Linked DNA regions of Homo sapiens. The protein of the gene in region 3 purifies or fractionates together with the protein of the main gene of each other region. This does not show direct contact. Each region holds a gene or a part of one and is shown on either strand. Other genes may lie near its edges. The genes, in order: FMNL1, PGM1, PEX7, NT5DC1, MTAP, CORO7 and IDH3A.

Region 1 (3,500 bases), on a different chromosome or scaffold from region 3:
CAGGGAAGAGCATTCCAGGCAGAAGGAACAGCATGAACAAAAACTCTGACATATTAGCACAATGACAAGAAAGGGTGATGTGGCAGGAGGGGGTGAAGGCGGGGCCTCCTGGTATTACTGGGAATGTGATAGAATCATCAGAGAGACTGACATGTGGAAGTCCCGGTCGGCAGTTCTGCAACAATGAAAACATCACACATTTGTTGGCGAAGAATAAGGGAGTACAGTCATATAGCACTTACTATGTGCCAGGCACTGTTCTAAGCCTATTCCATAGTCCCAACAACCCTGACAGGAAGCTACTATTATTAGCATTCCTATTCTAGAAGCGAGGAAAGTGAGGGATAGGGAGATTAAGTGACTTATCCAGTAAATGGTGAGCTGGGATGCGCCTGAACCCTGGCAGTGTGAATTCAGATCTGCGTCTTACATTGGAAGATGAGCCCAAGTGGCCATGAGCGCCACCTTGTGGTGATCCTTCCCATGTCTCTTCCTTCTATAGACCCTCACCCTACCAAGTCCCTGGGAAGTGTCTTTGCTTCTGTGTCCCCCCTCCTCCAAGCATGCCAGACCCCAGGTCTAAGGACTGAGGAAGCCTGCCTGCCCTCAGCCAGCCTCTTTGGTTGGGTAGATGGGATGTGGTGCCGTCAGGTTCCAGATGTGCCTCCTCTTACCCCAGAGGCTGAGTGGTGGGGAAACAGGAAGCTGGGGCTCACTCTGACTCCTGCTGCCTCCTCCACACCCCGCCCAGGCTGACCCCAGCCCACAGCAGGAAGGCCCTGCGGAATTCCCGCATCGTCAGCCAGAAGGACGACGTCCACGTCTGTATTATGTGCCTACGCGCCATCATGAACTACCAGGTCAGCCGAGGGGCATGGGACTGGCGACTAGGGAGCCCAGCCTGTCCTCACTGGGGGCTACACAAGCTGCCGAGGCTCTGGGATCCACTGTCCCTTTACCCTGTGCTGTGCTGGGGAACTTGCGCATCTGGGCTGTTGGCTCAGGCTTTTAAGGCTGATGAGTCTTGAGGGGAAGCCCATGTTTTTGCTGCCTCTGTCAGGTTCTCTGAGTACCCCTGCCCATGGCTGGGCATGAAGGAGCCTCACATAGGGACTGGGCTCACCTACCAAGAAGGGCTGGCCGGAGGGCCAGGGGAGAACAGCCTCGGGTCGATTCATTTGGAGGGCTGATGGGTGAAGCTGGGTCCTCCTTTACTTAGCCCGCCTTTAAGCCAGCTTCACGGTTTCCAAGGTGCCTGATGCTGGCTTTTGGAAACACAAAGGTTTTTAAAAAGAGGCCAGGTGCAGTGGCTCATGCCTATAATCCCAGCACTTTGGGAGGCCGAAGCGGGAGGATTGCTTGAACCCAGAATTTGAGATCAGCCTGGGCAACATACTGAAACCCCATCTCTATGAAAATAAAAAAATAAAAAATAAATAAAGAGAGGCCAGGCGTGGTGGCTCATATCTGTAATCCCAGCACTTTGGGAGGCCAAGGTGGGCAGATCACCTGAGGTCAGGAGTTTGAGACCAGCCTGGCCAATATGGCGAAACCCCGTCTCTACTGAAAAAAATACAAAAAAAATCAGTTGAGTGTGGTGGCAGGTGCCTGTAATCCCAGCTACATGGGAAGCTGAGTCAGGAGAATCACTTGAACCCGGGAGGCAGAGACTGCGGTGAGCTGAGATGGCGCCACTGCGCTCCAGCCTGGGTGACAGAGGGAAACTCCATCTTGAAAAAAAAAATAGAAACAAGGCCAGGTTTTGGTGGCCACAGAAGTTGCGGTTGGATACAAAGAACTTCCTAAACTCGAGGGCAGTTAAAGATCCACGTGGCGTGGGTGCCTGAAGTCCTGGGGGGCCCTTCCTGGAGACACTGACCTCTCCTCTCTCCCCAGTCTGGCTTCAGCCTTGTCATGAACCACCCAGCCTGTGTCAATGAGATTGCTCTGAGCCTCAACAACAAGAACCCCAGGTGAGGTCCAGGCCCCAAACCTTTCTCCGTATCTAGAGTCTTCTCCTACTTAGCCCCTTGCTTACTCTGTCCTCCAGGTCTCAGAGGCTCATTCTGCACCCACTATGCTCCTCCTAGCCAGGCCTGTGCCCACCCTTGCCGCGGGTCCTGCCTGTTCTCAAGGGACAACCTGCCCCTTCTCTCTCCAGAACCAAGGCTCTGGTGCTGGAGCTGCTGGCGGCCGTGTGCTTGGTGCGGGGAGGACATGACATCATCCTTGCAGCCTTTGACAACTTCAAGGAGGTACCGGAGTCCCTCACCCAAACATGCATTTCCCCCTATGGTGTTGCTTGGAGTCTTGTTGTTGGCAGTTGTGGCCTTTGCTGGAGGCAGCTGGGGACATTGGGTGGGCATTTGGGGAACGCCCAAAAGTTGAAGTTGAGCCACATCACTGGCTCAGCAATCTGGGATGGGGAAGTTCTGAATGGAAGGTACAGGGTCAGGTAAGGGCACCACCTGGGTGGGGGTAGGGACAACTACAGGGACCTGCTGAACCTCTGACTCAGCCTTGCCAGATCCAAACTAGCCTTGGTTCATACCTCCAGGAGTTGCGGACTCTGGCTAACAGGCTTGCAAGAAGTAGATGTGTGGGGCTGCATAAGATGCATAAGACAAGATATCTTCATTCATTCATTCCTTTAATGAATATTTATTGAGTGCCTACTATGTGTCAGGAACAGGGCACTTGGGCACATCAGTGAACAAAGGAAACCATATAGGGAAAGACAGAAACGATATAATAAACAAGCAAATTACATAGTATGTTAGGAAATGATAAATGCTGTGAGAAAAAAGCCAGCAATGTTGCAGAGGGAGGGGGAATTGGTTGCAGGGTGGTCAGGGAAGGCCTCACTGAGCAAGTGAGATTTCAGCAAAGCTGTGAAGGAAGCAAGGGACTTGGTGTGGGAGTGAGGGCACTCCAGGGAGTTGGAACAGTAAGTGCAAAGGCCCTGGGGTGGGAATGTGCCAGGATGCCAGTGTGGCCAGAGTGGAAAAAGTGAGGGAGAGTGGGAGATTGAGAGGGAGTGGAGGTTTTGAGCAGAAGAGTGACGTGGCTCAACTTAGAATTAACTGGAGAGGAGCCTGTTGAAGCACAGGTGTGGCAGCCAGAAGGTAGCTTAGGACGTGTGTCACTGGGCCTCAGTGAGAGCCATTCCCCTTACCCAGGTGTGTGGGGAGCAGCACCGCTTTGAAAAGCTGATGGAATATTTCCGGAATGAGGACAGCAACATCGACTTCATGGTGAGCTCAGGAGCCCAGCAGCCTGAGGCCTGGGCCAGGCCCTCTTGGGTGCAGGGAGCAGCTAGGGTCCTGGGTGCTGGGCAATGGGCTCTGCCCCCGCAAAGCGTAAGGACTGAGTGGTCAGTAGGGGAAGGGTGGATGTTGGCAGGGGGCTGGATTGAGGGAACATGGAGGTGAAATGTTGGGCAGGCCAAGGCTGGGAGTTAGTGGAGTGAGAACTGTGGAGAAGGAGGGAGGCTTGGGGTA
Region 2 (3,500 bases), on a different chromosome or scaffold from region 3:
CACACCTGGCTAATTTTTATATTTTTAGTAGAGATGAGGTTTCACCATCTTGGCCAGGCTGGTCTCGAACTTCTGATCTCAGGTGATCCACCCTCCTCGGCCTCCCAAGGTGCTGGGATTACAGGCGTGAGCCACTGCGCCTGGCCTATTCCCTAGGTTTCTACGCTCAGGTTGTTCTCTGATTTTGTTCACTCTCTCTACTCACTCGGGATTTAAATATGCTACTCTTTCTCTTGTGATATGATTCAGTCCAGATGGCATCTTCAGAAACCTTTCTTGACACCCCATCCCTACCACTCTTCTCCACCTATTAAGTGCTCCTTTCCCATAGATAATTCTAGAATATATATATTAAATTCTAGTGAAATTTTCCGTTTACATGTCAACGGCCTCCAACTAGAGAGTAAGCTTCTTTAAGTCAGACCTGTGTTTTACCTGTATCTGCAATGCCTAGGACTATGTAGCATTCAATGAATTCTTGTTTATTTGCTCTGAACTGTGAGTCACTTTTGTATTCTAGCACTTGATTTAAAGCCAGCATGTAGCTGGTGACCAATAAATTTATTCACATCAAACATTTATTATGTGCTTGCTTTGCCTCAGACATTGTACTTGAGATACAAAATATTTTTGCCCTTGGGAAAGACATAGTCTGGGAGGGGTGGTATACAGGAGTAAGCAGACAGCACAATGTGTCAGGTGTTGTGATGGAGGGATGTGCAGGTGTCTTTAACCTGAGGGGCTGTACTTGGGAGGGGAAGATGAAGGGAGGGAGGCTCCATAGAGGGGTGGTAGCCGAATTGAGTCTTAAAGAATGACTTGGAGTTCCCAGAGTGGGTTTGTCTGGTAGGAGGAATTCTTAGCAGAATGAATACAAATTGAGGGAGTTTAGATTAGATACAAATACAAATTTCTAGTCCTTTTTTGTTTCATCCACAAAGGTTGGGAATAATACATACCTGAAGAGCCTGTTGTGAGGATTAGATGAAACAACATATTTACAAGTACCTCACTTGGAAACTGTTCGAATGATAGGTGTGTTATCAATGTTTTGTTGGTATTAGGACACAATCCAACGTGATGCAGATATGAGCCACCCAGATGGTCTCCCACCTTCCTCTAATCCTCAACAGCCTCAACCAATATAGAGGGGTTCCGTGTTAGTCAGAGCCCAATTGGGTACAAATGACAAAAACCTTACTTGGATTACTCCAAGTGAAAAAGGAATTTTATTGGCCCATGTTACTGAAAAGTCCAAGAGAATCCCAACGAATTCTTTAGTTGAAACTATTCCTGGTCTCTAAAAATCACTTCTGGGTCTAATGATCTGCAAATGACCAGCATCAGAAATTGAGGAGAGTTTAAGCTCACAAATGAATGTGTGCATGTTTTGAAGGATGATTTATCACCACCCTAAGCAAAATAAAATAAATACCTTTGTGGGAACTTATGAGCAAGGAGGGTATTTGTTGTTGTTGTTGTTGTCAAGTTACAGGGATTCTTTTGTCACGGCTCCTTTGCTACTCATTTGTGCAAACTGTGGAGCCCCTTCTCAGAATATATATTTTTAAAAATTTGAGACATGGTCTTACTCTGTTGCCCAGACTGCAGCACAGTAGCGCGATCGTGGCTTACTGCAGCCTCAGTCTCCCCAGGTTCAGTTGATTCTCCCACCTCAGCCTCCTAAGTAGCTGGGGTCTACAGGTGCATGCCACCATGCCTGGCTAATTGTTTTATATTTTTTGTAGAGATGGGGTTTCACCAAGTTGCCCAGGCTGATCTCGAACTCATGGGCTCAAGCGATCTGCCTGCCTCGGCCTTGCCTCCCAAAGTGCTGGGATTACAAGTGTGAGCCATCGTGCCGGGCAGAGTATTTTTATTTTTAAGTGAATAAAACAAAATACAAACCATTACAAAGGAAGCAAAATTATATTGAAGTATAATCAAAATATTAAAAAACCAGATTTGTGATATATCAAGATAATGCTTCTTTACTGACATAGGAAGATTTGTGGAGGATTTAATACTGCCTTACTTCAAAGTAGTGGTGAGTATAAATGATGTTTTGAGACGTCTGCAATCTCAGTATTTTGAGATAACTATAATAGGATATGAAAATATAATTTTTATTGATGATAAATTCCTAGGTAGTAGTAGTAATAGTAGCAGTAGTAGTAATAATACTGTGGTTTGCTTCCTACATTTATAATAAAAGGAGGTGCTAAATTTCAGTTAGATGTTAGTGAAAATAAAGATTGTTTTGTTTATTTTGTCATTCATATTCATGGATCCCATTGAATTCTACCCAAGGACCTCTTGAGGTAGGGGAAGGGGATGTAAGCATCCCAAGTTAAGAACCCCACACTAAACAATGATCCTTTTTTAGCATCAGGTGATGCCTGCACCAAAATGGACCTCAAACACATGACCCAGAGGTTAAGGGTCTCATGTTCTCAGAGCAAACTAGTGGGACTTTGCAAACTTCGCCTTATAGTGGAGGAACTCCACTGTCTCCCGCTTGAAGTGAACCACCCTTTTCTGAACTTTCATGAGATCCATCTGCAAACACTGCTGAAGGAACATGTTTCTGGCTATAGCAGTTCACATTTCTTGAAAAGGAAATAAAAGAACACTGAGCAGGAAGGGGAAGGTTTTGAGACTCTTGGGTAGTTGGAGTTAGGTGGAGACACCTTGCTACTTTAACTTTAAACCTTATATCCCTGGGGCAGGGATGACTTGGCAGAGAAACACCTTCAAGTCACTTTTTTTTTTGAGACACTGTCTTGCTCTGTTGCCCTAGGCTGGAGTGCAGTTGCAGGATCTTGGCTCACTGTAACCTCCGCCTCCTGGGTTCAAGTGATTCTTCTGCCTCAGCCTCCTGAGTAGGTGGGACTACAGGCGTGCACCACCATACCCAGCTAATTTTTGTATTTTTAGTAGAAACGAGGTTTCACCATGTTGGCCAGGATGGTCTGGATCTCTTGACCTCATCATCCGCCCGCCTCGGCCTCACAAAGTGCTGGGATTACAGGCGTGAGCCACCACACCCGGCCCAAGTCACTTTTTAACATGCTGTAACCCCCACTTTAAAAAAAAAAAAAACCACTTTTTAATTATGGTGGGGCCGGGCATGGTGGCTTACCGCACTTGAGTGGGTCACTTGAGCCCAGGAGTTCCAAACCAGCTTGGACAACATGGTGAAACCCCTTGTCTACAAAAAATAAAAAAACTTAATCTGGTGTGGTTTCGGGCGCCTGTGGTCTCGGCTACTTGAGACACTGAGGTAGGAGGATCACATTCACCCTGTGAGGTCAAGGCTTCAGTGAGCTGTGATTGCACCACTGCACTCCAGCCTTGGCGATGGCAAGACCCTGTCTCAAAAATAAATAAATAAATAAATATAAAATGAATTATGGTGGGCTTTGAACAATTGTTCTCCCCTTGTTTACACTTTCTGATTTTGAATCAGCACTGAATGCCAGTATGGATAACCTATTGTC
Region 3 (3,500 bases):
TCAAGTAGCATGCTGTACAGATAGCCTCACATTGCGATTAAAAGTGGACTCTGCAATTAGGCTGCCCACGTTCAGATTTCATATCTGCACCTTACTAGCTTTGGGACTCTGGACAAGTTACTTAACCTCTCTGGGCCTTGATATAGTATCTACTTCATATAAATGAAGATTAAATGAAATAAAATACATAAAGTGCTTATGAACAGGATCTGACACTCAGAGTGTTCAATAAAGGTTTGCTATTTTTATTTTTGACTGTTTACATCAGCCTAGAGCAGGGGTTGGCAAACTACGTCATGTGGACCAGGACCAAATCTGGCCTGCAGTTAGATTTACAAATAAAGTTTTTTTGGAATCAAGCCATGCGCATTCATTCGGTATTGACTATGGCTGCTTGGTGTGTGCTATAAGAGCTGGGTTTAGTAGTTGTGACAGTGACCAAATAGCCTGTAAAATCTAAAGTATTTACCATATGGCCCTTTATAGAAGAAATGTACCTTTTTTGAAGAAACTTACCATTTACTATATGGTCCTTTGTAGGCGAAATTTAGAGGATAAAATCAAACTCTTTAGCTCTCAAGATCTTCAGTGATTGCTTCCAAACCAGCCTTTTTTCTATCCATAACTAACAGATGGCCACAGCAGCTCTTTGGTTTTCACTGGCCCTTCTATTCCTTTTATAGCTGCTGTCTGTTGCTGGATTGTGCTTCCTTTAGTGTTCCAACTACTCTTCTGTCTTTTGCGTGAATATGGGCAGAGGCAGGGCCAGGACTAGGGTAGAATGTGTGAGGCACTCACTCTAGGTACACAATTTAAGGGGGCCCCAAAAAACTTGATAATCAAGATAATTTGTTAATGTTTTTAAAAATAAAAATTAATGCAAAAAACCCATTATGAACAAAATATCGATATTTTACTTTTTTTGAAGCTTAATATTAATTTTATTAAACTTTTTTCCAGGTTTATTATGATTGGCAAATAAAAATTTGTAGGCTGGGCACGGTGGCTCATGCCTGTAAACCTAGCACTTTGGGAGGCTGAGGCGGTAGGACTGCTTGAGCCTAGGAGTTTGAGACCAGCCTGGGGAACATGGTGAGACACTGTCTCTACAGAAAATAAGAAAAAAATTAGCTGGGTGTGGTGGCACGCAAGCGTGACTCCAGCTACTTAGGAGGCTGAGGTGTGGGAGGACCGCTTGAGCCCAGGAGGTCATCGCTGCAGTGAGCTGAGATTGTGCCCACTGCACTCCAGCCTGGGCGACTGCGCAAGACCCTGTTTTGGAAAAAAAAAAAGAAAAATCTAAGTTGTACAGCTTAGGGTTTTGATCTAAATATATCTTGAGTAATGATTCCTACAGTCAAGCTAATTAACATATCCATCACTTGAATGGTTACCATTTTCTTGTGTGTGAGATAAGAACATTTCAGATCTACTCTCAGCAAATTTCAAGTATTCAGTAATACATTATTATTTATAATAGTTACCATGGTGTACATTGAATCTCTAGAAATTATTCATCTTATAACTAAAAGTTTGTATCCTTTGACCAACATATCCCCATTTCCCCCACCCCCAGCCCCTGGCAAACACTACTCTACTGTATGTTTCTCTAAGTTTGACTTTTTTAGATTCCACCTATAAGTGACGGGATCAGTATTACTGATGTTTTTTTTCCTCAGCCTCCAACATGGCTCAATATAGTACTGGGCAGCAGAGAGAAAGTAACCCACATGTAAGCGGCTTAAGCCCAGATACTCATACTTCCTACGTATATGTGGGAGAGAGTAGTAAGATTCAAAGTAACCTGCTGGCTGATCACCAATGTGATATACCAATGGCATATACTCAGGTCCTTGTCAGGACTAATTTCATAAAGTATAATTATGCACATATTTTGTTGAACTTAGTTTACAGCAGTGATCTGTGTATAATCTGTTGTATAAAATGAAAGAATGAAAACATTTCCAAAAGTTTTCAAGTAGTTCATTTGAAATGGTTCACTGAGAGCAGTGAAGCATATACTTTAGAATAGCAGCATTGGATAACTAAAACTGTTTACCAAGAGATCTGGAAGGATCACCTGGTTCCTGCAAGCTTTTTCTAAGAAAGGCCAGATAGGGATATTAATTGAATTTTAATGCTTTCCAATAAACATTGACCCAGCAAGCTTTTTTAGATGACTAACTTTCTAATCTGCTTTGACATTTCTTCGTGGGGCTGCAAACAGTGATTTGTTGGTAGGTTTTAAAATATGTATAATTTGTTTTAGTGAAGAAGGTTTGGAAGTATACTGTAGAATTCTGTGAAAGCAGAATGGAGTCTTATCTGTAAGGAATAAGTCTGGAGGAATGGACAAGATCAACTTTTCATTTCTCAGACACCTTGTTGAGATGGATAGGAATTATTTGATGTTTTGACATAGTAAATTAGTTGTTCTGCCTCTCATTGTTATGTAACAAGAGATAAAATGCAATGTTGAACTTGATGGTCTTTTGCTTTCTAAACACTTTTCAATGTTTTTAGGTGTATAGTGTTGATTGGAGCCAAACCAGAGGTGAACAGCTTGTGGTGTCTGGCTCATGGGATCAAACTGTCAAATTGGTATGTTAGCATTATTGTATTCAAAAACGAATATTCCCTTCTCTAGAGCTTCCACTAAATTTTCTTCTCTTTTTCCAACATACTTCTGTAGCTCTATGATTCGACAGCTGAGCTTTCTTTTAAAAAAAAAATTAAAACACTTATTAGAACTTAAAATTTTCTAATCTTTTGGCTGTGAACTAATAGTTAGCTCAGCATTAGTTTGGCCCTTAAATACAGTCTTGCTTTATATCAAAACAGATCTTTAAAAATCCTTGAGATCTGTATATATATTGTATGCATATATATAAATGTATATAGTTTATTGGTGTATGTAGTATATGTAAAAGCATAAATTTGAATTTATCCCTCAAGTAATTGATCTATTCATTTATTTGTAGTGGGATCCAACTGTTGGAAAGTCTCTGTGCACCTTTAGAGGCCATGAAAGTATTATTTATAGCACAATCTGGTCTCCCCACATCCCTGGTTGTTTTGCTTCAGCCTCAGGTAAATTATTCTGTATTTACCAAAAGCCTTACTTGTAGTGAATGGTGGCCTTGTTTTTACCATTAGGTGGCGCTGTGTACCTTAGCTTCAGAGAGAAAACAGGAGAATATTACTATTCTTTTGTGTTCTTAAGACTTTACTTCTTTTTTTATTTTTATTTTTTTATTTTTATTATTATACTTTAAGTTCTAGGGTACATGTGCACAACGTGCGGGTTTGTTACATGTGTGTGCATGTGTGCCATGTTGGTGTGCTGCACCCATTAACTCATCATTTACATTGGATATATCTCCTAATGCTATCTCTCCCCCCTTCCCCCACCCCATGACAGGCCCCGGTGTGTGATGTTCCCCATCCTGTGTCCAAGTGTTCTCATTGTTCACTTCCCACCTATGAGTGAGAACATGCGG
Region 4 (3,500 bases), about 21 Mb from region 3:
CAAATCAAAACTTGATATTCACTAATAAAACTTATTTTTTAGACGTAAAATTTTAATATTTCTTTTGCTCCTTCAGTAGGTCTGTGTGTAGCTATTATTATAAGGTTAAAAATGTGTATAAACCAACCACCATTGTAATACATATGGCTAATAAAGACAAACTTTTACAACAGCTATAAAAAAGGCTTCTAGGCATTTAAATGTGAATGAGATAACCATGTCTAACAGAATATCCACAAGTATAGAAACATTACTTGAATATAAAAAGGTTTTAAGAGGCAAAAGGGATGTACCAGGTTATTTTTCACTTCCTATCTCATTTAAAACAATTTAATTTTATTCTTTCTCCCATATTACAGAAAAGGTCTATCAAAGGTCACTTAGGATGAAGAGTTAGATATCTTTCTCTATGCAATTTATAATAATGTTTAAGTCAAATCACATTTAGAGATATCTCAAATCATCCCGAGCTCTATGTGAGTTTAATTTTAATACTCTGCACAGAAGTTAATACAAAAATATGAAAGCTTATCTGAATAAAAATTTAAAAAAAACTCCCAGGCCCTCCTCAGAGGATCATGTAAAACTGGTGAATGAGACCTAATAATCTTCTTCATAGTCACAGGATGAGGGTTACTAAGAATAATCTTCAAATGCTTAGCTAAATAAGAATTTTAATACATACAACATGGCAACTTTCTTCAATTTAAGGAAGAAGAATCGGAAGTTCAAAAAAATTAACTAGACTTCTAACTTCAACTGGAAAATCTGGATAAAATATAAACACGAGACTGAAGTGTCACCAGAGAGCTAAAGAGGCAACCAAGACTTGAGGCACAATTCTTGGGAAGGAGGAACCAGCGGAGAGAGGAGCTAACACTAAGCCTCAGCTTTTCTCCTCTGGTGCTGGAATTCTGGCTGGTGGTAAGGGCTACTACAAGCAGCAGAAAAACCAGTAGAGATTTTGACAGTCTTGCAGGGCTGCAGAGACAAAAATTGAGGGGCTAGGACCACTGTAAAGGAAGGGTCAGAGAACTGGACTCTGCTGGTTGTCTCCTCAAACCCTTTGCCAAATGCTGAAGGAAATTTGCAAACTAAGAATCCAAGCGGAAAGCATATGCCTCTATAAAGGAGAGTGGATGTTTTCTTTTTTAGGCATTTTCTTGGTATTGTGAAAATGGAAAGATTAAATTCTGACCTGAGAGAGGAGAGGGGACTTTGTGAGTATCTTAGACTGGCAGTTATATAGTTCTGAGAACTAGGAGTTTATAATTATGAAGTGATCTCTCTCATGCTAATCATTTTTCCCCTTAATATCTACTTTGTTTCATATTAATGCAGCCACTCTCTCTCTCTCTTTTTTTTTTTTTGGTTACTGTTAGCATGGTATTATTTCGTCCGTCTTTTGATATTTAAACTTTCAAACTTTCTGAATCCTTATGTCTCAGATATATCTCTTATAAACAACTTATAATTGGGTATTGTTATTTTTATTTTTTTATTTTTATTTTGAGACAAGAGTCTTGCTCTGTTGCCCAGGCTGGAGTGCAGTGGCGCAATCTCCGCCTCCCGGGTTCACGCCATTCTCCTACCTCAGCCTCCCACAGGCGCCCGCCACCATACCCGGCTAATTTTTTGTATTTTTTAGTAGAGATGGGGTTTCACCGTGTTAGCCAAGATGGTCTCGATCTCCTGACCTCGTGATCCGCCCGCCTCCGCCTCCCAAAGTGCAAGGATTACAAGGCGTTGAGCTACCGTGCCCTGCCGGGTATTGTTATTTTTTTAAAATTGGCTATTAATTGGAGTATTTGGTCACATACATTTAATGTAATTACTTCAGGTTTAAATTAAACATTTTACTAAATGCTTTCCATTTGTCTTGCTGATTCTTTGTTTTTTTTTTTTTTTGTTTTGTTTTTTTTTTTTTTTTGAGACGGAGTCTTGCTCTGTCACCCAGGCTGGAGTGCAGTGGCGCGATCTCGGCTCACTGCAAGCTCCGCCCCCCGGGTTCATGCCATTCTCCTGCCTCGGCCTCCTGAGTAGCTGGGACTACAGGCGCCCGCCACCACGCCTGGCTAATTTTTTGTATTTTTGGTAGAGACGGGGTTTCACCGTGTTAGCCAGGATGGTCTTGATCTCCTGACCTGGTGATCCTCCCGCCTCGGCCTCCCAAAGTGCTGGGATTACAGGCGTGAGCCACCGCACCCGGCCGTCTTGCTGATTCTTAATATTCTCTCATCTCCTTTGTTTTCTTTTAGATTCTTAAATTATTTTACATATTAGCTTGGTATATGTATATCATCACAATTCTCTTGAGAGTTATTTTTGAGATTACAACATGCATTTCTGACATCAATACTGAACATAGTCTTATCCTTAATTGTTTAATTCTAGCATGTTAGAACATGTTAATTTTTGCTGCCCCACTCTGGCATATATATGCCATTACTGTCAGGCATTTTAATTCTCTATGTAAATCCCATGGGACTTTAATTTTTATTGTTTCAAACAGTAAGCATTCATTTTTTATTCATATACTTACACCATATACTTATATACATTCTTCTTGCATCTCCAGTCTTCTGACATGAATTATTTTTAATTGTACCTGGAGAATAATAATCTTTATTTCCTTTAGTGCAGGTTTCTGGACATACATTTTCTCTATTATTCCCTGTCTAAAAATATTTTACTTTTTTTTTTTTTTTTTTGAGACAGTCTTGCTCTGTTACCCAGGCTGGAGTGCAGTGGTGTGATCTCAGCTCACTGCAACCTCTGCCTCCCAGGTTCAAGCAATTCTCCTGCCTCAACCTCCAGAGTAGCTGGGATTACAGGCACCTGCTACCACACCCGGCTAATTTTTGTACTTTTAGTAGAGACGGGGTTTCACCATGTTGGCCAGACTGGTCTCAAACTCCTGACTTCAGGTGATCCGCCCACCTCGGCCTCCCAAAGTGCTGGGATTACAGGCGTGAGCCACCACATCCGGCCAATATTTTACTTTTATTCTTTACAATGTTTAACTGGGTATATAATTCCATCAAGATTCACATCATTTTCTTTCAGCAATTTAAAGCTATCATTCTATTGTCTTTGACTCTCCTCTGTTTCTGATAAGTCAGATGTCAATCTGTTATTTAATCTATATTTATGCTCTTGATTGCTTTTAATATTTAATTATCTTTGGCATTTAGCAGTTAACTCTGAATTTATTTTTTCTTCATTTTGTTTCATTTCTTTGGGCTTCTTAAACCTTTGGCTTATTTTTTTCCCCATCATTTTCTCTCATCTCACTTATTCTCTCATCTCCTGGGACTCCAATCACAGATGCCCCTCAGTAACTGCAGGGGACCCCTGTGGATACCAAAGCCTGTGCATGCTCAAGTCAGAAAATGGCATAATATTTGCATTAAACCTACATACATCTTCCTGTATACTTTAATTCATCACTAGATTACTTAATATCCAATACAATGTAAATGCTATGTAAATAGTTATTA
Region 5 (4,121 bases), on a different chromosome or scaffold from region 3:
CTAGAATATAAACTTGAAGAAAATAAATAAAGGCCTCGCTTACTCAAAGCTGCATCCCCATTGTCTAGCAGGTATTCAATAAATATTTTTGAATAGGATTCCACCAGTAGATGGCTAGATTTGAAAGATATGCCAAATATACTGCCAATCCAAAACTCAGTGGAATCTTTCACTTGCATGAGTTAACTGCACCTCTAAAATTGAGAATGAATTTAAGATCCACCCCGTTAATATCTCTATTTTAAGAAGAGAGGTACTTGGGCTGACATTAAAGGAGTACCTGGAACTGGGCTGAGTGTGTTACATGTTACTGTATTTAAATCCAGCAACCTCTCAAAGGACCTGCCAGTGACACCAATGGGGTTCAGACACACATGTGCCTCCTATACCTATACCTGGGTGGTGTGCAGTGGGCACTGGAGGCAGCCTGCTTTCTGCATACCCTCTGCCTCCCTCTTCAAGATGGACATTCTATCAAGTGCTCATTTTAATTGTGCATTAGGTCACAAGAAAACAGGGCAGAGACCACACTTCAGATTTCAGAAATGCCTCACATCTAGTTGGTGGAATGCCAGGCTCTAGGCCCAATTCTGTCATTATCTAGGTCCAGCTGTGTAATTCTGGATACTTAGCTGACCTTTCTGGGCCTCAACTTTACACCCGCAAAACGGGTTTGTGTGGCTATATGGATGGTCTTGAAGGAACACTCCAGCCCCATCATTCTATAATTTGGGAATAGGATGTGGTTTTTATTAACCTATTTTGCTCTGGACACTGGCACCTCACATCTTCTATACAGAATGTTGCCTTAGAAGTCTGGGGAATACGGTGCTGGCATCATGGAATCTCTACGGCAAAGCTGTCATCTGTTCTAAATTAAAAGAGAAATCAGCAGGCAGTCCTAGCACCATATGTACCTCTTAATTTTATATCCAGAAGCTTGCCAAGACCAAAAATACACACTATTCAATATTTACATCAGGTCTCTGAGAATCCCATTGCCCATTCTGCACTTAAATGCACTGCATTAATTTGAAGGGAAACCCTGTGGCAGGGAGAATGCTAACCAGATTAAAGTAAGACTGTTTTAAACACCATTTCTCCATTTTTAATGGCGCTTGAAGTGTATTCCTGCAAGGATAAGGTGAAAAGTTGTGGCCTAATGATACCTAACACAATAACTTAATAATTTTTGGGGAAAAGATCATTCAAAATTAATCTCAGTTCCCCCACTTATAAGCACTACCACTTAATAAGCTTCTACCATGTGCAACATAGACAATATAATTCTAGCCCTCCTAGCAAATTCTGCAGTAAAATTCTCAGTTTATAGATGAGCACCTAAGAGAAGTCACATACTTCACACGAGTTTCATGAAAACCATTTCTGCCTTGTTTCCGCCAAACAATGAAGGCAGGGGAGAGGCCTTCTATAAATATTTGCTGGATGCAAGATTCTTTTCAAAATGACAAAATAAGTTTCATATATAAGTCTGGATGCAACACCCTTCACCATTCCTCTCATTCTAAGTGGCTCATTTAAACCTGCAAGGGCGTAATAAACTAATCTGGCTGATTACACACTGACCGCAGAAATTCGCCTTCTCCCGGGAAAACTGCAGTCGAGTGTAGGGAATCGAGATGCTTTGGAGAAGATCGCAGACCTTCCTATCCCATAGGCCAAAAATTTCTAAAAATCAAACAAGAACGCATTCTTAGCCAGTAATAAACTGCCTAGAAGAGGTCTTAAGTTTTATCATCAATTTTTCTTTACGTGCTGTAATTCTCTCTCGGAATACTAACCAGGAGAGAAGTGTTTAAAACCCCAGGGAAGCCAGCTGCTACTCTCAGAACTCGTGCCCTCCTCAGCACAAAGCTTCCCACCGCACAATGACCCCTTGTATCAAGGCCTCTCAGGGCCTAGGGCACAAGGAAATTGAACTCTAACTTGCAAGGCTGCAAAACAAAGCAGTTTCAAGCCAGAGGCCTCCAAACAGTGCAGCCCTAAAAACGGACGCCTGTACTCCTTTTCGAAGAAAGTCTCAGAATTCTTACAGTATTACGCTGCTGGGGAAAACTTCAGCGCGGAGAAGGCCTACGTTTGGAGGAAAAAGAAGCCGGAAGCATACAAAAGAGCAAGTAAGCAGTTCTCCCACGTGGGCCGCAGGCAACAAGCAGAGTCAGAGAGCGGAAGCTGGAGTCCCGCAAGGCACCAGGAGACGGTCACAGAAGCTGCAGGCGCCCGGACACCTCCTGACTCCAGCCGGGTGTCTTTCTTGGAAGAAGAGTGGTTCTCAGGAATGGTGGTGGCATGGGTGCAGCCTCTCCCATCCACGACCTCTCTCTCTAAAGGGGTGCCTACGCCCTACAGGGTGCGGGTGCAGATAAGCCAAAAGGTGGTGTGTGTGTGTGTGTGTGTGTGTGTGTGTGTGTGTGTGTGTGTGTGTGTGTTGGCGGTGCGGCAGGGGGATCATTTGCAAGCGTACCCTCTCCTCGCGCGGCAAGTGAGTCCCGAGTGCCGCGCCCCAGTCCCTCCCCGCGGCGGCAAGGGACGCACGGGCCGGGCGCATGGCCCCCGGAGGCGCGGTCCCCCGGCGCGGGGGCGAGAAGGCATCCGGCAGGGCGAACCGCTGCGGCTGGGAGGGCTCATCTCACCTTCACGGCGGTGGTGGTGGTGCCAGAGGCCATGTCTGCACGGGAAAGGAATCTGCAGTGGGCGAGCGCTCGGGACTAAGGGAACCAAGCGAGCCACAGAGCGGTGGCTGTGCCAACCTCACTGCGCGGGAGTGAGCAGTGCGGAGACCAGGGGCGGGCCTTGACTCCTCCTCTTCCTCCCCGGGACAGCTGGATTGGCTGCTTGTGTGGGATCTCCCCCGCCACCCCTTCCCCAAATCGAAGTTCCCGCGTTCCGCCCCTTTTGCAGACCTTTCCGGTTCTCCAGGTTTTTGTCGTTTTTTTTTTTTTTTTATCCCCAGTTATAACTAACGGATAATGATAATAATGGAGACCATTTATAGAGCGCTGTATTGTTCCAGACTGTGTGTTTTGCACTTTAATTGGCTTACTTAACTTTCGCTAAAACCTTATAAGGAAGAGCAGCACTCCCTGCTTGGCCCAATATTAGTGGCGTCGGAGGCCTCAGCTGCAAAATCTGGCCCGGCGGCATTCCAGAAGTTCTCGCGGGAGGGAGAATCCTCACCAAGGCGGGTACTGGCCGGCCACGGAGATTCTCTTAGGCAGCTAACGCGGGGCGGCCGCCGCGGCGGGGGCAAGATTTGTCCTTCCTGCGGCTGCGAACCCACCGCGGGTTTGCGTATTTCCCTTGATTCCTGGAGGACAGAGCTGGGATGGACTTGACCCAAGACTCAGGGATGACGAAAGGGAAATAAACAGAGTAACGTAGTACTGGATAATCTTTCTGATTTACGAACTATGATTTACTCATCTTCAATTTGAGGGGCCGCTTTTAGGGGGTTGAGACCTTGCACAACTCCCAGTCTGGCTCTACCTGGCTGGGGGCATCTTTAACCCGTTCTACGCCGGAGCGGCATCGAATACACCTGGATTCAGAATCCAAACTCAGGTCTCCGTCATTCAACACTAGCAGGACGCACACACACACACACCACGAGCCCTTTACAGGGATAATCCCTCATGCTTACAGCCCCCGTCCCTTCCCTACTGGGGTAATCCAATTTAACCTTCCTTGATGGATTAAGCGTTCTGAAACAAAATAATGGGTGGCAAGGATCTTAAGGGTGGACTCTGAGATGTAGAAATGCTGCAAATTAGCCTGGACGTGGGAGGAGGGCCGAGAAAGGGGATGCTTTCCTCTTTCCTTACAGCAGCAAAACACGGAAACAAAACACAAGTACAATTTAATTCAAAATACCACTGTGTGATGTTAGCCTGGATGCTGCTCATAGAACCTATTTACTTAAACAGTATAGACTTTCGTCCTCACATTACTATAAGCTTTAGGTCTAAATTTTCTCACAATGTAAAGTTTTCTTTCTTCTGTTACAATCATCTATTTCTTTTAAGTTATAAAATGCAATGGCAAAAGAAGAATGAAAGTAGAATCCGGGTGCTCCTTTGAGGAATAGGAGACAGGGAATCCTT
Region 6 (3,500 bases), on a different chromosome or scaffold from region 3:
GGGATTACAGGCGTGAGCCAGCATACCTCGCTAATTTTTTAATTTTTAATTTTTTGAAGAGCCATGGTCTCATGATGTTGCCCAGGCTGGTCACAGTGTTGACCTACTGGGCTCAAGTGATTCTCCCACCTCAGCCTCCCAAAGTGCTGGCTGGGATCACAGACATGAGTCACTAGGCCTGGCCTAGCCTCTTTTGCTTGAAACGCACCGTCACCTTTTCATTGCTCGTCCACTGGAGGCAGAACTCCCCCTCCCCACATGCACCAGGCCCCTTCCCGTCTAGCCTCCACCTGCCCATCCTGAGCCTCAGCCCTCACCCACACTGTCCAGGCTGTCAGGCACATTGTCCATCTTGTTCCTCAAACAGGCCATGAACCCACCTGCCACAGGACCTTTGCACAGGTTGTGTTCTCTCTGAAACTCTCTTCCTGTGAGGTGTTTGATTTCTGCATGACCTTGGGATCGCAGGGATCACCCCTTCCCCCACTGCTGAGGCCCAGTCCCCCTGCTCTGTCACTGTGTGTCCTCGGTGAACCTTCCCTTCACATGTTTGTCTATGGGATTGTGTCTGTCTGCCTCTTGTGCTAGGCTGTGAGCACCTTGAGGACAGAGGCAGGGTCTGTTGCACTCATCTCTGGGCATACCTACATGCAGGTCGAGCCGAGGACCAGGCACAGACCAGCTCATCAAAGGAGTGAATGATTGTGAACGAATGAATGAGTGAAAGCCCTGTCAAAGCTGCTGAAGGGACTTGCTTCCAGCCCCAGTGGAGCCAGTGTCAGTGTGGAGGGCACTCCAGGTCACGCACCACCTTGGTCCCCTACCCTCCGCCTCCGCCTCCACCTCTACAAGCAGTGGTCAGGCCGGGATGCAAAGGGCATTGCTGAGCCCGGCTCACCCTGCTGGGCCCTCAGTAAGTAGGGGCCTGTGTTACTCACAGGTGACCAGCCCAAGGCACTCCAGGAAGTCATGGAGACACCCAGGGCCCCACCCAGCTTCCCAGCCACTCTGTGGCTCCTGGAAGTGTGGGGAGGGGAGGTGGGCAGGACTGCTTAGTGGTCGGCTGGCAGGAGGGGATGGGTGGACAGTGGAGGGCGGCTGGGCCCTTTGTCACCGCAGTGAGGGATAGAGGCAGCTGCCACAGCTGGGTGACCTCTGACCCTGGCAACACAGTGGGGACGGGGTCCTGTTTAAGGGTGTCAGTGTCTGGGTTGGGAGGGTCCAGGCCTGCAGGTCCCAGAAACAAGAAACCAAGACCAAGTGCAGTGGCTCATGCCTATAATCCTAGCACTTTGGGAGGCTAAGGTGGGAGTATCACTTGAGGCCAGGAGTTTGAGACCGGCCTCGGAAGCATAGTGAGACCTTGTTTCTACAAAAATAGAAGTAAAAATAGCCAGCCATGGTGGTGCACACCTGTAGTCCCAGCTACTCTGGAGGCTGAGTGGGAAGATTGCTTGAGCCCAGGAGGTTGAGGCTGCAGTGAGCAATGATTGTGCCACTGCACTCCAGCCTGGGTGACAGAGGGAGACCGTGTCTCTTAAAAAAAAAAAAAAAAAAAAAAGCAAAGATCAGGAGCAAGAAACACAGGAAGGCAACTGGGCATCTGGGCATCTGTCAGAGTCCTTCCAGGTCCCCATTCCCCTCAAAAGGCCCTGGAGTGGGAAGGCAGCTCTCACAGGGCTGAGGGGCTGTGCAGGGGTCTCTGAGGGGCCCCGGGAGGGAGGCATAAAGCCCGGCCAGTGACAGGCAGTTGGCCAAGGCTGAGCTGGACATAGAGTGGCAGGGGCTCTGGGGGCTTCCGGCCCGCCCACTCTATTCCCAGCTGCCACCCCGCCCTGCTCCTGCCTCGAGACCAGAGAAGGCCTGGGAGCATGCTGCTGGCAGGCTCGGCCGGGGCAGCAGGCCTGGGGTGTGCAGGGAAGCCCAGCGGCCGGAGGAGCCCCTTCTCCCGGGCACGTGGCTCAGATTTGGACACAGGAACTTTAACTCAGCATGGGGGGGTCTCTGAGCTTCCAAGATATCACTGAGGCACAGGAAACGTGGGGTAACTGAGTAGAGGGCCCCAAACCTTAGTGCAGATTCGGAACGGCAGGGCTGCCTGCACTGCTCCCGGATGCTGCCTGTCCACAGGCAGTGCCGAGTGGGGACGGGAGGCTCCTCGCCTCCGGCCTCACCTCTCCACCTTCCCTGGCAATGCTGGCCTGATGTCTAGGCTGTCGAAGGTGGGAGGGGCACAGAATGCATGTGGGGTCTTCTTGGAGGAAGAGCTGTGGCTGAGATCGGGCCCGAGTTCCCCTGTGCCCACTCCAGTCCTGGAGTGACGCAGGTGTGCAGGTGGAGGCCCTGGGGAGGAGCAGCTGGGGTGTGGGCGTGTGTTGGGCATGTGGGAAGCTCAGGAAGAGGAGGGGGTTCCTGGGGACCAGGCTGAACATGGCTGGATGGCCAAGCGGCTCCCAGTCACTGTGGTGCCTGTCCTGGGCTCCTACATGGGGTTACGAGTCTGGCAGCCCTCCCACTGCCCTGACCCGCCATCTTGCCCTCTCTTCCCCAGGTGTCTCGTGCCTCTGCTGGACCCTGACTCTGGGCTCCTGGTCCTGGCAGGAAAGGTGAGTGAGAAGCTGGGGCTCCCACCCACATCCACAGCCTGGAGTCCAGCCCCTGGCCTTCCCCAAGAGAGAGGAGGAACTCGAACAGGGCCTCTGTGTCTTCCCCTGTGCAGCCAAGGTGACTGTAGCTCTCCTAGAACACTGGCCTTCCTGAGAACAAGGCCGAGAATAGAGCAGTGTCAGCACACAGTCAGCACTCCATAAATACTGACGTACACCCCCGGTGCTCACCCCATGTGCAACGAGGCTGAGCAAGTGAGGTAGTCAGCCTAGGGCTCAGCTCAGCGCCCAGCATGTTGGGGAGCCCCATCTCCAGCCACTGTGGTTCTGTGGCTCAGGTCCTTGGGGACCTGTGGGGGAGCTGATGCCAGTCCTGGGCCCTCCCCAGGGGTTCAGTCAGCAAACGGGGCTCAGTTCAGACTCATTTCAGGGCGAGAGGCAGCTGTACTGTTACGAGGTGGTCCCGCAGCAGCCGGCGCTGAGCCCAGGTAAGCCTTGCTTCCTCGCCCCCATCCCCTACCCTCCCCTCCCCTGCCCATCCTGCCTGTTCCCCTATGGTGTCCTCAACAGTGACCCAGTGTGTCCTGGAGAGCGTGCTGCGTGGGGCTGCCCTTGTGCCCCGGCAGGCGCTGGCCGTCATGAGCTGCGAGGTACTCCGCGTCCTACAGCTGAGCGACACAGCCATCGTGCCCATCGGCTACCATGTGCCCCGCAAGGTGAGGGGGACTTGGGCGAGGGACTGCGGGGGCTGGGGAGTCGGGGGGCCTGGGCCTCACTAGCTGCCTGCTTGTCTGCGGCCAGGCTGTGGAGTTCCACGAGGACCTGTTCCCGGACACTGCCGGCTGTGTGCCTGCCACCGACCCCCATAGCTGGTGGGCTGGGGACAACCAGCAG
Region 7 (4,175 bases), on a different chromosome or scaffold from region 3:
GGGGTTGATAAAAGCCCTCCTTCCTGACAAGGCCACAGACTTAGCTGCAGTTTATTATTTAGGTCATAAAAGCTCTTGGGATCACTTCTCTACTGCACTCATCACCTCTCTGGGTGGGTAGGCAGCTCCTCTCTGGATAGAACTCTTCCCAGGGTAGGGTAGCAGAGACCTGGTTTAAACACCTGACCTCCCCTGGCACCCAGCTAGAGGCCTGGCCATCAGCAGGAACTCAGGAGTTTGTGATGGACAGGGAGAGGACAAGGGGAAAGGTGAGTATGGATGTTATTTCTTCAGAGAAGCATTCCCTGACCTCCAGGTTAGGTTTGAATCAGGTTGCCTGATTTTGCCTTGCCATAGCTCCTTGCTCTTTTGCTTCTTGGCGCAACAGTTTTAATGACATGTGTGTGACACTTGATTGAAGCCTGTCTTTCCTACTGGACACTAAGCCCCAGCACTTAAAACAGTGCCTGGTGTCTAGTTGACCCTCAGAAATATTTGTTGAGCTAAATAGACAGATTAGTAGTTGCCTGGGATTGAGGACAGGAGCGGGATTGACTATAAACGGACACAAGGAACATTTTCATATGCTCAAAAACTGGATTGTGGTGATGGTTGTGCAACTGTTTACATTTACTAAAAATCATCAAACTGTACACTTACAGTGAGTAAATGTTACTATATATACATTATACCTCAATAAAGCTGGTAAAAAATAAAATTCGGCCAGTCGCAGTGGCTCACTTTGTGAGCCTGGGGCAAGCAGATCGCTTGAACTCTGGAGTTCCAGACCAGCCTGAGCAACATAGCGAGGCCCCATCTCTACGGAGAAAAAAAAAAAAAAAAAAAAAGAAAAAGAAAAGAAAAAACAAAGTTGGGCTGGGCTTAGTAATTACTTGATCCCAGGAGGTCGAGGCTTTGTAGTGAACCTGTTCGCGCTACTGCACTCCAGCCTGGGCGACAGAGTGAGACCCGGTCTCAAAAAAAAAAAAAAAATCAAAATTTGTGGAATAAGAAAATTATGTGTCTTTCTCCACGGGATTGTAAATTCTATGAGGAGCGCTATATCCCCAAGATCCTAGAACATTAATCAGCACCTAGTAGGTGTGGAACAAACGTCTTACCTTAACAGCGAGTCAATGAACCAGGGAGGGGAGGAAGAAGCTTTCCCGGAGATGCCGGCCCCTCAGTTTCCGGGTTCGCCTGGCGCTCAGCCAGGCCAGTCACAGAGAGACGAGCCCGGCGATTCGCCAGCGGAATGTCCAGGGGCGGGGCAGCGAGCGAGCGCGAAGCAATCCTGAGGCGGTCTAGGGGGCGGGGCGTTCAGGGGGCGTGGCCGTGCAGGGGCGGGCTCCGAGCGTGGGGTGGGCGCTTGCGCACTGCCGCTGCGGCTGTTGCTGCGGAGCCAGGAGGGGAAGCGATGGCTGGGCCCGCGTGGATCTCTAAGGTGAGCGCTGGCAGGCCGGCGTGTGGCAGGCAGGCAGGCCGCGAGGGCTGGCAGGAGAGCCGGTCGCGTGCCGGGTGTGGGCGGGCGCGTGGGCCAGACAGGGAGGCGGTGGCTGCCCGCGGGGACAGCTTGGGAGCCGGTCCTGGTCGCCCGTGCCCCGCGCTCCGTGGCCGGCTCGCAGTGTATGGGCCGCCCCGGGCCGGGTCAGCAGCGCAGAGGCGGGGACGGCGTCAAGGTCAAGGCGGGGGGGCGCCGGCCCTGCTCCTGCCGAGACCCGGCTGCCGTCACCCGCATCCGCCCAGGCCAGAGCCCAGGCTTCGCGCCGAGCCCGGGAAGGTCACGGGAGCCTCTGTCCCGGCTCCGCCATCCGGGCCGCTTCCCCGGCTGCGGCCCTGCTGCGGGACTGATCCCCTCAGCACTGCCCACACCTCTCATCCGCTGTCTGCGCGGCCCTTGGCCGGGGAACCGCAGGTGCCACGGGCACTGGCGTTGAGCTTGGGAGGTTTTCCCAGGTGAGAGAATCCGGGGGCCCTTTTCCCTATCAGATTGTTTTCCCTTTGGCGCTCTTCCCAGTCAGACCTCTAGTGCTCTTGTAGCTATTTCCCCTTCATAGGATAGGGCATCTTACACCTCGGAATTACCGTCTGAACCTTCGGAGAGAGAGACCAGCAGAGCCTTCCTTTTACCTTTCATTGGTGGGAATCCTGCAATCTGGAGCGCTTTAGCTCTCCTTGACAGCTCAGATGCCAGAGCTGGAAAGGGTTTCAGATCATCTATGCAGTTCCGTAGCTTCTCAGTGGAACTAACCTGTGCCTGAAGAAGAATTTGCTCAAGGTCACACAGGAGGTCGGTGTCAGAGCAGGGAGAGGAACCTAGGTGTCTTGGTTCCCATTTCCCAAGGTCACATAGCAAATGATGGTACAGGCCATCAGGCCTCAAGTCTCCTGTTGCTATGAAAGGGTGGTCCCCTAGAAATCTATAAACAATTTAACGTTTTTCTGTAAGTTTGATACTACTTTTCTCCCATTTTTTCGGTTTAAAGAGAGGTCCAGAGATGCACTGTTATTTAAGGAAAAGATCTCTGTACTGGAATTTAGGAGTCTCAGATTTAAATCCTAGCAATGCCACTGATTGGCTGTGTGACCCTAAGCAAATTACTAAACATCTCTAAGCCTTAATATGCCCATCTGTGAATATCTATACTTACATCACAGAATTGTTTGAGTATTAAATAAAATAATGTATGTGAAAGCACTTGGTATGTACAGAAGGAAAACAAAAATCTGAAGCTTTCTTATCAATATGTTTATCTGTCTCCAACAGACAGTGGTTTTCATGGGCATCATTAACTGGTTTTTTTGTTCAATAACTAGATTCTACTTTGTCACCCTCTTCAGACCCAGATTTGCTTGTGATGATAACTCTTATGTCACATTTGCTCCTAAAAGTAAAGCAACTTCTGTGTCACTGTGAAAACTGAACTCAGTCCTTTAATCTCTGAACTTACATTTAACACCCAATTCATCTTTGGTAGGTACATTTGCCTTCACAGTGAGGCACTAAAGCAACACTTGATAATGATTGTGCTGGTAAATCTGTTTTGCCTTTAGTGTGATCTGCATGAAAAAACCCTCATAGTAGGTATTCAGAAAGTGTTGGGTTGTGGAGTCAGAAGATGAGGTTCTCTGACATGCACTCCCTGTGTGACCTTTGGCAGAGTCATTTGACTTCTGGGCCAGCTTCTCACTTTAGGGATTGGAGCAGAAGGTGGCTCAGAGGCTGACCCCAGGATGGTGGAGGTGCTGAGCTGGATGCCGGTTTCAATCAGGACAGTTCCTCTGTTGAGTTTCCATTTCAGGTTGTGGCCAGGCATGGTGGCTCATGCCTGTAATTCTAGCACTTTGGGAGGCCAAAGTGGGCGGATCACTTGAGGTCGGGAGTTCAAGACCAGCCTGGCCAACATGGCGAAACCCCATCTCTACTAAAAATACAAAAATTTGCTGGGCGTGGTGGCGCACGCCTGTAATCCCAGCTACTCGGGAGGCTGAGGCAGGAGAGTCACTTGAACCCAGGAGGTGGAGGCTGCGGTGAGAGGAGATCATGCTCCTACCTGGGTAACAGCAAGACTCTGTCTCAAAAAAAAAAAAGATTTTTTTTTTAAAACCCATCTCAGAACCCATGTACAACACTATTTACATGTTTTTAAGTTAAAAAGGAAATGAGTTGTGGATTAAGATGGCCCACGACCTGAAGTCCAAAGTTCAGGGTTTTGGTCCAGGCTTCATGAACCTGGCCTCAGTTTCCTCATCTGAAAAGTGCCAATAATGCCTATCTCTACAGGTTTTATATAAATAAAATGATGTGAGATATATATATATATATGCATATGAGTATTCTATAAAGTAGAAGTCCTGCCATCTCAGCCTTCCATGAAGCTGGGACTACTGGTGTGTGCCACCATACCTGGCTAACATTTAAAATTTTTTTTGTAGAGGTAGGGTCTCACTCTGTTGTCTAGGCTGATTGGTCAGGTCTTCTGTCACAGAGACATAAGCTAGTTTTGTGTGAATGTCTTTTCCCTCTTTTTTGGGCTGGGAGAGGAGAAAGGACTCATGTCAATTTTTTTTTTTTTTTTTTTTTTTTTTGAGACAGAGTTTTGCTCCTGTTGCCCAGGCTGGAGTGGAATGGTGAGATCTTGGCTCACTGCAACCTCCACCTCCTGGGTTCAAGC

Evidence for each region.
Region 1: the proteins of PEX7 (region 3) and FMNL1 purify together in Homo sapiens (co-immunoprecipitation; one large-scale study listed by IntAct). This does not show direct contact.
Region 2: the proteins of PEX7 (region 3) and PGM1 purify together in Homo sapiens (co-immunoprecipitation; one large-scale study listed by IntAct). This does not show direct contact.
Region 4: the proteins of PEX7 (region 3) and NT5DC1 purify together in Homo sapiens (co-immunoprecipitation; one large-scale study listed by IntAct). This does not show direct contact.
Region 5: the proteins of PEX7 (region 3) and MTAP purify together in Homo sapiens (co-immunoprecipitation; one large-scale study listed by IntAct). This does not show direct contact.
Region 6: the proteins of PEX7 (region 3) and CORO7 purify together in Homo sapiens (co-immunoprecipitation; one large-scale study listed by IntAct). This does not show direct contact.
Region 7: the proteins of PEX7 (region 3) and IDH3A purify together in Homo sapiens (co-immunoprecipitation; one large-scale study listed by IntAct). This does not show direct contact.

The regions. Positions count from the first base shown.
Region 1 is NC_000017.11:45,235,385-45,238,884, forward strand, and holds part of FMNL1 (formin-like protein 1), read left to right. Parts: intron 1-751; coding exon 752-860; intron 861-1,896; coding exon 1,897-1,973; intron 1,974-2,161; coding exon 2,162-2,255; intron 2,256-2,633; exon of another isoform or gene 2,634-3,179; coding exon 3,180-3,254; exon of another isoform or gene 3,255-3,500. UniProt on the Homo sapiens protein: May play a role in the control of cell motility and survival of macrophages. Plays a role in the regulation of cell morphology and cytoskeletal organization. Required in the cortical actin filament dynamics and cell shape.
Region 2 is NC_000001.11:63,596,411-63,599,910, forward strand, and holds part of PGM1 (phosphoglucomutase-1), read left to right. Parts: intron 1-3,500. UniProt on the Homo sapiens protein: Catalyzes the reversible isomerization of alpha-D-glucose 1-phosphate to alpha-D-glucose 6-phosphate. The mechanism proceeds via the intermediate compound alpha-D-glucose 1,6-bisphosphate.
Region 3 is NC_000006.12:136,843,092-136,846,591, forward strand, and holds part of PEX7 (peroxisomal biogenesis factor 7), read left to right. Parts: intron 1-2,523; coding exon 2,524-2,601; intron 2,602-2,981; coding exon 2,982-3,090; intron 3,091-3,500. UniProt on the Homo sapiens protein: Receptor required for the peroxisomal import of proteins containing a C-terminal PTS2-type peroxisomal targeting signal. Specifically binds to cargo proteins containing a PTS2 peroxisomal targeting signal in the cytosol.
Region 4 is NC_000006.12:116,240,353-116,243,852, reverse strand, and holds part of NT5DC1 (5'-nucleotidase domain-containing protein 1), read right to left. Parts: intron 1-3,500.
Region 5 is NC_000009.12:21,801,315-21,805,435, reverse strand, and holds the start of MTAP (S-methyl-5'-thioadenosine phosphorylase), read right to left. Parts: upstream 2,801-4,121; 5' UTR 2,688-2,800; coding exon 2,655-2,687; exon of another isoform or gene 2,570-2,654; coding exon of another isoform or gene 2,486-2,569; intron 1-2,485. UniProt on the Homo sapiens protein: Catalyzes the reversible phosphorylation of S-methyl-5'-thioadenosine (MTA) to adenine and 5-methylthioribose-1-phosphate. Involved in the breakdown of MTA, a major by-product of polyamine biosynthesis.
Region 6 is NC_000016.10:4,364,597-4,368,096, reverse strand, and holds part of CORO7 (coronin-7), read left to right. Parts: intron 1-2,551; coding exon 2,552-2,606; intron 2,607-3,036; coding exon 3,037-3,094; intron 3,095-3,176; coding exon 3,177-3,322; intron 3,323-3,407; coding exon 3,408-3,500. Other genes in the region: CORO7-PAM16 protein, read left to right, coding at 2,552-2,606, 3,037-3,094, 3,177-3,322, 3,408-3,500. UniProt on the Homo sapiens protein: F-actin regulator involved in anterograde Golgi to endosome transport: upon ubiquitination via 'Lys-33'-linked ubiquitin chains by the BCR(KLHL20) E3 ubiquitin ligase complex, interacts with EPS15 and localizes to the trans-Golgi network, where it promotes actin polymerization, thereby facilitating post-Golgi trafficking.
Region 7 is NC_000015.10:78,147,987-78,152,161, forward strand, and holds the start of IDH3A (isocitrate dehydrogenase [NAD] subunit alpha, mitochondrial precursor), read left to right. Parts: upstream 1-1,375; 5' UTR 1,376-1,417; coding exon 1,418-1,444; exon of another isoform or gene 1,445-1,956; intron 1,957-4,175. UniProt on the Homo sapiens protein: Catalytic subunit of the enzyme which catalyzes the decarboxylation of isocitrate (ICT) into alpha-ketoglutarate.